Linked DNA regions of Homo sapiens: region 1 is linked to region 2. A link means that fine-mapping ties the variant in region 2 to the expression of a gene that starts in the linked region. Tissue or cell type: whole blood. Region 2 holds a variant in brackets; the other region holds the start of a gene. All regions are shown on one strand. Distances are between the middles of the regions.

Evidence for each region. PIP is the estimated chance that this variant, and not a neighbour inherited with it, causes the effect.
Region 1: it holds the start of ERCC1, and the variant in region 2 is fine-mapped to the expression of ERCC1 in whole blood (TOPMed, PIP above 0.99).

What each region holds. Positions count from the first base shown.
Region 1 is chr19:45,421,445-45,426,353 of GRCh38, forward strand. It overlaps ERCC1 (ERCC excision repair 1, endonuclease non-catalytic subunit), which reads right to left and starts at 2,473. Exons shown (of 10, transcript NM_001983.4): 1 at 2,337-2,473; 2 at 1,826-1,937. The coding sequence starts at 1,930. RefSeq lists enhancers at 2,459-2,548, 2,609-2,658, 2,907-3,201.
Region 2 is chr19:45,446,181-45,452,048 of GRCh38, forward strand. It overlaps a transcript of ERCC1 not described here. Among named protein-coding and RNA genes, the nearest start is that of MIR6088, 12 kb to the left of the region's middle. RefSeq lists silencers at 4,679-4,808, 4,969-5,018. The variant C/T (reference allele first, on the strand shown) is at 3,032.

The DNA.
Region 1 (4,909 bases), 25 kb before region 2:
ATCTGAGGCCCTGTGAGTTCCTCTCCCCTTTCTTTTTCTTTTTTTGAGACAGTCTTGCTCTGTCACCCAGACTGGAGTGTAGTGGCACTATCTTGGCTCATTGCAACCTCCACCTCCCGGGTTCAAGCAATTCTGCCTCAGCTTCCCAAGTAGCTGGGATTACAGGTGCCCACCACCACGCCCAGCTAATTTTTTTTTTTTTTTTTTGAGATGGAGTCTTGCTCTGTCACCCAGGCTGGAGTGCAGTGGCGTGATCTCGGCTCACTGCAACCTCCGCCCCCCAGGTTCAAGCGATTCTCCTGTCTCAGCCTCCCAAATAGCTGGGACTACAGGCGTGTACCACCACGCTGGCTAATTTTTGTATTTTTAGTAGAGACAGGGTTTCAACATGTTGTCCAGGCTGATCTCGAACTCCTGACCTCAGGTGATCCGCCCGCCTCGGCCTCCCAAAGTCCTGGGATTACAGGTGTGAGCCACAGCACTTGACCCCTCTCCCCTCTTCAGGGCTGCCCATCCTCCTTCCTCCTAATGTCCCTTCCAGAAGGCTGAGAGCTCAAAATCTGAATTCAGCCACTTCTCCCCCACTCCTCAGCCTCCACTCTGGTCCCAGCCACCAGCGTTTCACCCTTGGACCACTGAAGTCACTTCCTCACCAGCTCCTTGCCCACACCCTCGCCCCCTGGAAGTCTGTCCCCTAACTAAGTCCTCATGTCCCTCCTCTGCTCAGAGCTGGTGGGTGGCTCCTGCCTCAGAGTGAAAGCCAAAGCTGTCACCATCACCCACAAGGCTCTAGATCTGTCCCTGCTCCTTGCCTCAGAAACTACACCTTCTACCACTTCTCCTTGCTTTCTCTACTCCAGCCCCACCAGACTTCGTTCTGCCCTTGAACACGGCAGGCTCTCTCTGACCTCAGGGCTTTGGCACTGGCTGTTCCCTCTACCCCAGATGTCGCCATGGCTCACTCCCTCACCTCTTTCACGTCTCTACCAAGATGTCACCTCCTCAGAGAGGCCCTCCCTTGACCTTCCTATCTAAAGTAGGAAGGGGCCAGGCATGGTGGCTCATGCCTGTACATCCCAGCACTTTGGGAGGCCGAGGTGGGCGGATCACTTGAGGTTCGAGACCAGCCTGACCAACATGGTGAAACCCGTCTCTACTAAAAATACAAAAATTAGCCAGGCGCGCTCCTGTAATCCCAGTTACTCGGGAGGCTGAGGCAGGAGAATCGCTTGAACCCAGGAGGCAGAGGTTGCAGTGAGCCGAGATGGTGCCAGTGCACTCCAGCCTGGGCAAAAGAGCGAGACTCTGTCTCAAAAAAATAAATAAATAAATAAATAAATAGAGTAGGAAGGTCCTCTCCCCCATCATGCCCTACATCCTTAGCCCACTTTCCTTTTCTTCATAGCCAATGCTCATCACCCGTCGATTGTTTTCCCTTGGGAAGGAGATTTCAATATTGCCAGGTCCTTCCATTTACCAAAATATGTCTAAAGTGTAGATTTTTTTAAGATTGCAAAACCTGGCGATTCTTAAACACGAGCAATAAATTCATGTCTTGAAAAATCAGGGTGCTGGCCTCGTAAAACACATCAGGGGCTACCTGCTGAATGCCAGTGTCTGGCCTCTGCCTTAGCCCTCTCTTAGAACCACCCATCCATTTCACAGATGGGGAAACTGGGACCTGGGGAGGACCAAGGACTGTTTCCCCAAGTCGTCCGTGGCCCCCAAATCCACTAACCCACACCCTGGTCCCACAGGCCCCATCCTATCCTCTTCGTCCTAACAGCCCCCAGCCTCCCAGGGGCCCCGCATCTCCTTGTCCTACCACTCCAGGAGGGACCTCATCCTCGTCGAGGGGTATCACAAATTTCTTCCTTGCTGGCGGCCCTGAGGGCTGGGGCACCCCCTCTTTGTCCTTCCCAGGGTCCATCTGGAGCCTGAAAGGGAAGGTGCCAGGAGCGAGTGAGCCACTGGCGTCTACGTTCTCATCCCGCAGCAGGAACCCCCCACTCACAGCCGTCCCCCACAAAACTCCGAGAGCTCCATAGCGTCAGGTCCCCAACACCCAGCGCTAGAGGCTCTGTAACGCCACGCCCCTTTGACCTCCACCTTCGGCTCGCCCCGCCCCTTACAGGTCCACAAGTCCCATCGCTCCGCCCCTCGCCCCCACCGGATTCTATTGGCTCCGTCCCCACCATCCCCCGCCTTCCGTTCGTCCGGCCCCCGAGGCTAGCATCTGGACGCCCTCCCCACGCCTGGCCTTGTCCATCTCTCAGACTCGGCAATGATTGGCTTCCGCGGCGCCAATCTCCACCCGCAGTCTCCGCCTCCCGCACCTGTGGTCCGGGCCTCACGGTTTCAGCGCCGCGAGGCCTCACCTGCTGGTCTTGGAGCCTCAAGGGAAAGACTGCAGAGGGATCGAGGCGGCCCACTGCCAGCACGGCCAGCGTGGCCCAGGGCTCGCAGCACTTCCGGCCTCTCTGGCCCCGCTCCCCAGGAGAGTAGAGCATAGAGCAGGGCGATCTCTGTACAACTCTCTATGGTTCTGGAGGACCGCGGAGGTCGTGGGAGGAGAGAGATGTGGCCTGAGGATCTGGCTCCCAAACTGTTAAGTTTCAAAGCCCTTACTGAGCGCTTCTGTGTGCCCAGAATCCTGGCAGGGCTCAGTGGAGAACAGATCGCAGGAGATCCAACTTGGTCCCTCCTCTCAGTAAGGAGAGACTTAAGTTTGAATCCAACTCAGACATTGACTTGGCTTCAGTTTCCTCATTCATTCATTTATTCCACACCTATTCCCCCCACGCGCTTCCTCTCTTCCCGGTCCTGTGCGAGTCCGTGCTGGTGACACAGCAGTGACCAACGACAGCCCCGTGTTGTCCTCCCGGAGCTTACGGTTCAGTAAGGGACACAGACACGTTCCCAGTGCTGACCCAGAATGGGCAGGTCTGGGATGGGAGATCCCGGGAGAGCCGTGGGATGGGGGTCAGGGGGAGCGCCTGACTCAGCCCCGGAGTCCGGAAGGGCTTCCTGGAGGAAGGGACATCTGAGCAGGGGCCTGGCTGATGAGTTAGTATTAGTCACTTCCTGAAAGGATAGTATCACACTGTTCTAACTTGCAGCTCTCTGATTACTAAGGAAATGGAATGTTTTTTGTGAAAGTATTGGTCTTGTAAATTTTGTCTTCTGTGAATTGCTTGCTCATATTCCTTGTCCATTTTTAAAATGGGTTGTATGGCTTTTTTATTACTATTAATTTCTAGGGGTACTTTATGGATTCTGATTCTAATCCTTAGTTACCCATATTGCAAACATTTCCTCCTAGTTTCTACTTTGGGCTTTAACTTTAGTTATTTTTGGCACAGAAGTTATTTGTGTTTATGCGCAACTATTTATCAATCTGTTCCGTTCTGACTTTTGCTTTTGGTGTGTTAAGAGCCCTGCCATAACCCAGGGTCATAATGATAAATTCTTTTTTTTCTTTTTTTTTTTTTTTTCGAGACGGAGTTTCGCTCTTATTACCCAGGCTGGAGTGCAATGGCGCGATCTCAGTTCACTGCACCTCCCCCTCCCGGGTTCAAGCGATTCTCCTGCCTCCTTAGTAGCTGGGATTACAGGCATGTGCCACCATGCCCGGCTAATTTTTTTTTTTTTTTTTTTTTTTTGTATTTTTAGTAGAGACGGGGTTTCACCATGTTGGCCAGGCTGGTCTCAAACTCCTGACCTCAGCTGATCCTGAGGTCACTTTGTGACCTCCCAAAGTGCTGGGATTACAGTGCACGGCTATAATGATATATTCTATCATTTCTTTTATCTACGTAAAAGATAAAAGCCCCGTGTTGTCCTCCCAGAGCTTACAGTTCAGTGAGGGACACAGACACGGTCCCAAACAGTAATGACCTAGAATGAGCAGGTCATCTGGCTTTAATCTATGTAAGATTTATTTATTTATTTATTATTTTTTGAGATGGAGTTTTGCTCTTGTTGCCTAGGCTGGAGTGCAATGGAGCAATCTAGGCTCACTGCAACCTCCGCCACCCACATTCAAGCAGTTCTCCTGCCTCAGCCTCCCAAGTAGCTGGGATTACAGGCTAACTTTTGTATTTTTAGTAGAGACGGAGTTTCACCATGTTGGCCCTGCTGGTCTCGAACTCTTGACCTCAAGTGATCTGCCCACCTCAGCCTCCCAAAGTGCTGGGATTACAAGCATGAGCCACGGTGCCTGGCCAAGATTTATTTTTGAAAGTGCACCGAGGTCGTTGTTTATGAGTGATGTAACCAATTGTCTCAAGTTGACCAAAGGTAGATCTTTTCTCCACTGTTCTGAAATTCTACCTTTATCACATACCAAATTCCCATACACACACGTCTATTTCTGACATTTCTGTTATGTTCATTGATCTTTTTATTTATTCTTGCCTGCATGTACATGACATCCCTCTGTTTCTTTGTTCACATCAGTCTTTCATCTATGGGTGTCTATCTGTGTCTACATTTTCCCATTTTACTTAATTTTTTTTTTCTGGGCATGGTGGCTAATGTCTGTAATCCTAGCACTTTGGGAGGCCTAGGCGGGTGGATCACCTGAGGTCAGGAGTTCGAGACCAGCCTGACCAACATGGAGAAATCCTATCTCTATTAAAAATACAAAATTAGAGTCCCGGTGCAGTGGCTCACACCTGTAATCCCAGCACTTTGGGAGGCCGAGACAGGCGGATCACGAGGTCAGGAGTTCAAGACCAGCCTGGCCAATATGGTGAAACCCCGTCTTTACTAAAAATACTAAAATTAGTTGGGCGTGGTAGCGCACACCTGTAGTCCCAGCTACTCAGGAGGCTGAGGCAGAAGAATCGCTTGAACCTGGGAGGCGGAGGCTGCAGTGAGCCGAGATTGTGCCACTGGACTCCAGCCT
Region 2 (5,868 bases):
TGAGCCACCGCGCCTGGCTTGTTTTTTATTTTAACAGGGTCCTTTGGGTTGTAGGTGGGGAATAGACTTTGGAGGACAAGTGTGGAGTCAGGGAGACCAGTCACTGTCATGGTCCAGTTGAGTCCAATGGTGACTTGGACTAGGAGGTAGTAGGGATCGATTCTGGAGGCCTTTGAGTTAAGAGAGGCAAAATTTGCTGACAAGCACATTCATAGCAAGCCATCAGTAGATGGCAGCACTTTCCATTATGTTAGGTGGTACTCACCACATCCCCATAAAAGTTAACATCCCTATTTTACAGATGTGCAAACTGAGGCCCAAAGAGGTCGCTTAACTTGCCTAAGGTCTCACGGCTCAGTCTAGCTCCAAAGATGGTACCCCTCTATTGGGACGGCTATTCCCAAGCCCACACACCCGAACATAACACTCTCAGTGCCTAGATTTACATCTAAACCTGTACTCATCCATGTGGGCCCCAGGACTCCCGGAGCCATGTCCTCATCAGTCACATGGAGCCGGTGTAGAAAGTAGGAGCTGGGCCGGGAGAGGTGGCTCACAACTGTAATCCCGGAACTTTGGGAGGCCAAGGCGGGCAGATCACGAGGTCAGGAATTCGAGACCAGCCTGACCAACATGGTGAAACCTCATCTCTACTAAAAATACAAAAATTAGCTGAGCGCAGTGGCAGGCGCCTGTAATCTCAGCTACTCAGGAGGCTGAGGCAGGAGAATCATTTGAACCCGGGAGGTGGAGGTTGCAGTGAGCCAAGAACGCGCCATTGCACTCCAGCCTGGGTGACAGGGTGAGACTCTGTCTAAAAAAAAAGAAAAGAAAAGAAAGTAGGAGCCAGATGGGGAGAATGCTGGCCCAGGACACTTGCTTAGAGGCAGGTTGGCACAGGCACAGAGGGTCCACCCAGAACCTCCCAGCCCAGCATCTGGCTCCCACATCCAATCACGGCCTAGGCCTGGCACACCCCAGCACTACGTGCAGCAACATGTGAAACACAGTCACGCATACACACGGAAATGTGGCCTTCTGCTCTGGGAATGCATTTTCAGGCAGTGTGCAGAAAACACAGATTTGCTTCTTTTTTTTTTTTTTTTTTTTTTGAGACAGAGATTTGCTCTTGTCATCCAGGCTGGAGTACAGTGGCGGGATCTAGGCTCACTGCAACGTCTCCCTTTCAGGTTCAAGCGATTCTCCTGCCTCAGCCTCCTGAGTAGCTGGAACTACAGGCACGTGCCACCACACCCAGCTAATTTTGTATTTTTAGTAGAGACAGGGTTTCACCATGTCGGTCAGGCTGGTCTTGAACTCCTGACCTCAGGTGGTCCACCTGCCTCCGCCTCCCAAAGTGATGGGATTACAGGCGTGAACCACTGTGCCGGGCGTCTATCTCTTTATGTCTCTGTATCTCTCTGTTTTCTTTTCTTGTCTCTATCTCTGACCTTTGTCTCACTCTGACCCAGCTCTGTCTCTCTCACGCCTCCACACTCAGGATCCTCTAACTGCCGCAGAATGACTCTTGTCCCTGGCTGTGTGTTTCCATAGGACCTCACCTATTATGTACCATGAGAACCTGGCCTCTGGACAGGTGTGTCCAGCCCCAGGTCGGCAATTCTGGCTGGTTGCTCAGAATCACCTGGGGAGTAACTCACATAGCATAATTCTCTGGGCTTCTTTCTCTGAGATTTTTTTTTTTTTTTGAGATAGTATCTTGCTCTGTCACCCAGGCTGGAGTGCAGTGGCACAATCTCAGTTCACTGCAACCTCTGCCTCCCAGGTTCAAGTGATTCTCCTGCCTCAGTCTCCCAAGTAGCTGGGACTACAGGTGTATGCCACCAAGCCTGGCTAATTTTTGTATTTTTAGTAGAGACGGGGTTTCGCCATGCTGGCCATGCTGGTCTCAAACTCCTAACCTCAGGTGATCCACCCACCTCGGCCTCCCAAAGTGTTGGGATTACAGGCATAAGCCATCGCGCCCGGTCGTCTTTCTCTGAGATTCTGACCCACAGCTTGTGGGTGTGGAACTGGAGGAACCCACCTTTAAAATACTCCCCAGTGACTGGGACCCCTGCCTGCTTGTACTAGTTACTGCATCTGATTTTACAGACAGAGAAGAGTCAAGGCCCAGAGAGCAGACAGCTCACCCCAACATCACACAGCAGTCAGCTGCGAGGGGCTTGGTGCTACTCAGATTTCTCCTAAGAATGTTTGGAAACAACCTGAGGGAGAGTTAAGTAATAAAGGAAAATCACAAACAGAGACAGAGACCCAGAAAGGGACTCACGGGAATAAAAGCAGAAAGTGACAGAGATACATAGAGATGATGAGACAGAGACAGAGAGATCAGAGATAGGGTTCAGAAAAAAAGAAGAGAGAGGCTGGGCACAGTTGCTCACGCCAGTAATCCCAGCACTTTGAGAGGCGGAGATGGGAGGATCTCTTGAGCCCAGGAGTTTGAGACCAGCCTGGACAGCATAGTAAGACCCCATCTTTATTTAAAAAAAAGTTTTTATTAATTTAAAAAAAATGCAGAGAGAGATAAACACACATCAGAGGCTGAGAAAGACAAAAAGCTATTTGGGGGCCTAGAAAGACCCCCCACCCCGCCCCAGGAGAGATGTATTTTCTTTTGAAGGAGACAATACCGTCTCCTTGGCCCATGCTTTAATAGGCCCTACTTCCCAGAAACAGCCAGTGCCATGGTTTAGCAATCTCAGCCTTACCAAGCCAGGTCTCCTCCCCAGGCTTGATATGTAGGATGCACATTAAATACGTTTATATAACCTGCCCTCTGTGCAGAATCAAGGAGCTTTACATAACGTAGCCCTGTGAGTCATGCGGCAGACACGGGGCACTGACCTGACATGCCCAGTGAGAGGGGACCCCTCGCCCAGGACCTTTACCTGGAAGTGATTGTGAAGGATAAGGGATCATGCATTTCACTGAAGAGGAAGCAGAGGGTTAGAGAAGGCAAGGCACTTACTTGGGGTCACACAGCCAGGATTCAGCACAGCAAGGATTC[C/T]AACCACATCTGCTAGTGCCTTATCACGTGATCCTTTACAGAGTGGAGGAAACAATAATAAAAACACCTCTAGTAATACAACGACTGCTGTGTATTGAGTGCACCGGGCTGCAGTAAGTACTTTACAAACACCGTCTTATGTATTCCAAAACCCAGTGAGGAGCTGGACGCTGTGGCTCACGCCTGCAACCCCAGCACTTTGGGAGGCCAAGGCAGGAAGATTGGGTGAGCCCAGGAGGAGTTCGAGACCAGCCTGGGCAACATAATGAGACCCCCGTCTCTAAAAACAAAAAATAATAAAAATTAAAAATTAAAAAATTAGCCAGTGCCTATAGTCCCAGCTAGTTGGTAGGCTGAGGCGGGAGGATTGCTTGAGCTCAGGAAGTGAGGCTGCAGTGAGCTGTGATCATACCACTGCACTCTAGCCTGGGCAACAGAATGAGACCTTGTCTCAAAAAAAACCAACAAAATGGCCGGGCGCGGTGGGTCACGCCTGTAATCCCAGCACTTTAGGAGGCCGAGGTGAGTGGATTACTGGAGGTCAGGAGTTCAAGACCAGCCTGGCCAACATGGTGAAACCTCGTCCCTACTAAAAATACAAAATTAGCCCAGCATGGTGGCGGGTGCCTGTAATCCCAGCTACTCGGGAGGCTGAGGCAGGAGAATCACTTGAACATGGGAGGCAAAGGTTGCCGTGAGCCGAGATCATGCCATTGCACTCCAGCCTGGGCAAAAAGAGCAAAACTCCATCTCAAACAAAACAAAAAAAGCCCAGCGAGTTAGGGACAGAATCCAGTTATTAAATAACATAATTAAACCTATTTTATACGGAGCACTTATTATGTACTAAGTGCTTTACCGGATTTGATGGTCACAATTCTAGGGGTGGGTGATGTTATCACCTCCATTTCAGGAAGGAAGGAGGCTCAGAGGAAGTCACAGGTCAAGGTTCCGGAGTGGGTAACTAAACCCAGTCCTTGCTAGCCCTGTATCTCTATCACCTACTCCCATGCATACAGGTCCACAAGCATGCCTATGCACACGTGCAATCAATATTGCACTAACATCTCCAAACACTCTAGTTGAAATACCCAGAGCTCCCGCCTTATATCTTTTCTCTTCCTCAAGAAGGCTAACCCAGCCTCCAATCCCCTAAACCTTCATGAGCCAGGGAAGGAACCCTCTTCTTTCCCTCTAACGCCTCAGTTCCGCCACGCGGCCGGCCGAGGTCGGCGCTGTAAAATGCTCCTGCTCCTTTAAGAGAATGAACAGTCCAGGCCGGGCGCGGTGGCTCACGCCTGTAATCCCAACACTTTGGGAGGCCTAGGCGGGTGGATCAACTGAGTTCAGGAGTTCGAGACCAGACTGACTAACATGGCGAAACCCCGTCTCTACTAAAAATACAAAAATTGGTCGTGATGGTGCGCACCTGTAATCCCAACTACTGTGGAGGCTGAGGCAGGAGAATCGCTTGAACCCGGGAGGCAGAGGTTGCAGTGAGCCGAGATCGCGCCATTGCACTCCAGCCTGGGCCACAGAGCGAAAGCGAGACTCCGTCTCAAAAAAAAAAAAAAAAAGAGAGAGAGAATGAACAGTCGGCCGGCGTTGCCCGGCAGCGCCGCGCCGGTTGCCGGGCAACGTCAACAAACGACGCGGCCGCCGTCTCCGTGCGCCCGCCCCCCCCCCCCCCCCCCACGCCCGCGCAGACGCGGTGACGCGACGGACTGTGGAACGCCGTCGCCTAGCAACGCGAGGGCTGTTTGTCCCGGGCTGGGTGGCGCGGCCGCACAGGGCGCAGCCAGGACCGGCCCGGGCGGACAGACCGGCCCGCCGGGAGCCCGGGGCGGGGGGTGGAGGGGATTGCGGTGATGGAAGCGGGGGAGAACCGGGTTCCCAAATTACCGGTTTCCCTTTAGACAGCCGCCGTCTGTTGTCGCCCGCTCCTCCTGTCTGCCCCGGGACCGCCTCCGCTCGGGTATCTGTCCGTCTGCGCCCCCTCCTCCCCGGCATGTCCGTCTGTCCAGCGCCTCCCGCGCTGTGGCTGTCTCATATCCCCCCCAAACCATCACAACCAAAATAGGGACAAGCACACACTTCGCTGGCCTGCCGTTTCTGCCTTGGACTGCCGGATTTCCGGGTGCATTGTTGCGGTTGGGGTCCCCACCAGGGGAGACAGACAGACAAGGGGAGACAATCTGTTCACACTCAAGCCACAGCCCCAAAGCCCTCCCGTTCCTTTCCCCGCTCCCTTGGGGTTCTCTTGCCTGTCTTTCTCGAGCCTCTTTCAAGAGACAGGCAGCCCGTGGTCCTTCCATCCTGTGTCCGGGAAGCTGTCCACAGCTGGGAGGTTCTAACAACTCATCCCCAACACACACTCCCAACACCCCCCCATCCAGTAGCTTCATGTGACCAGGGCTGGGGCGAATCTCCGAGCAGAGAGAAGAAATTGAGTGTGTGACAGTGTGAATGGATGTGACTATAGGTGAGCAACAGTCGGTGACAATGTGCACATCTGGTATTTCCTGTGTGAGAGCAAAACTGCAGGACTCAGTGAGTGGTTTCTGTGGTTTGCACTTGTGTATCTGGGTGTATGGGAGTGTGTAGCCCTGCTGACTGTGTAGATATGAATGTGTGTGCAGTTGTGAGTCTTGCATGTGGTCATCTATGTGAAACAATGCCTGTATAAGTACCCATGGATGTGCACGGTTTTGCCTCTAGCCGTGCATTTCTGGTTCTGTGTGTGTGTGTTTCTGGTTTTTTCGTTTGTTTTTTAGAGATGGGGTCTGGCTGTGTTGCCCAGGCTAGTCTTAAACTCCTGGGCTCAAGCGATCCCCGCC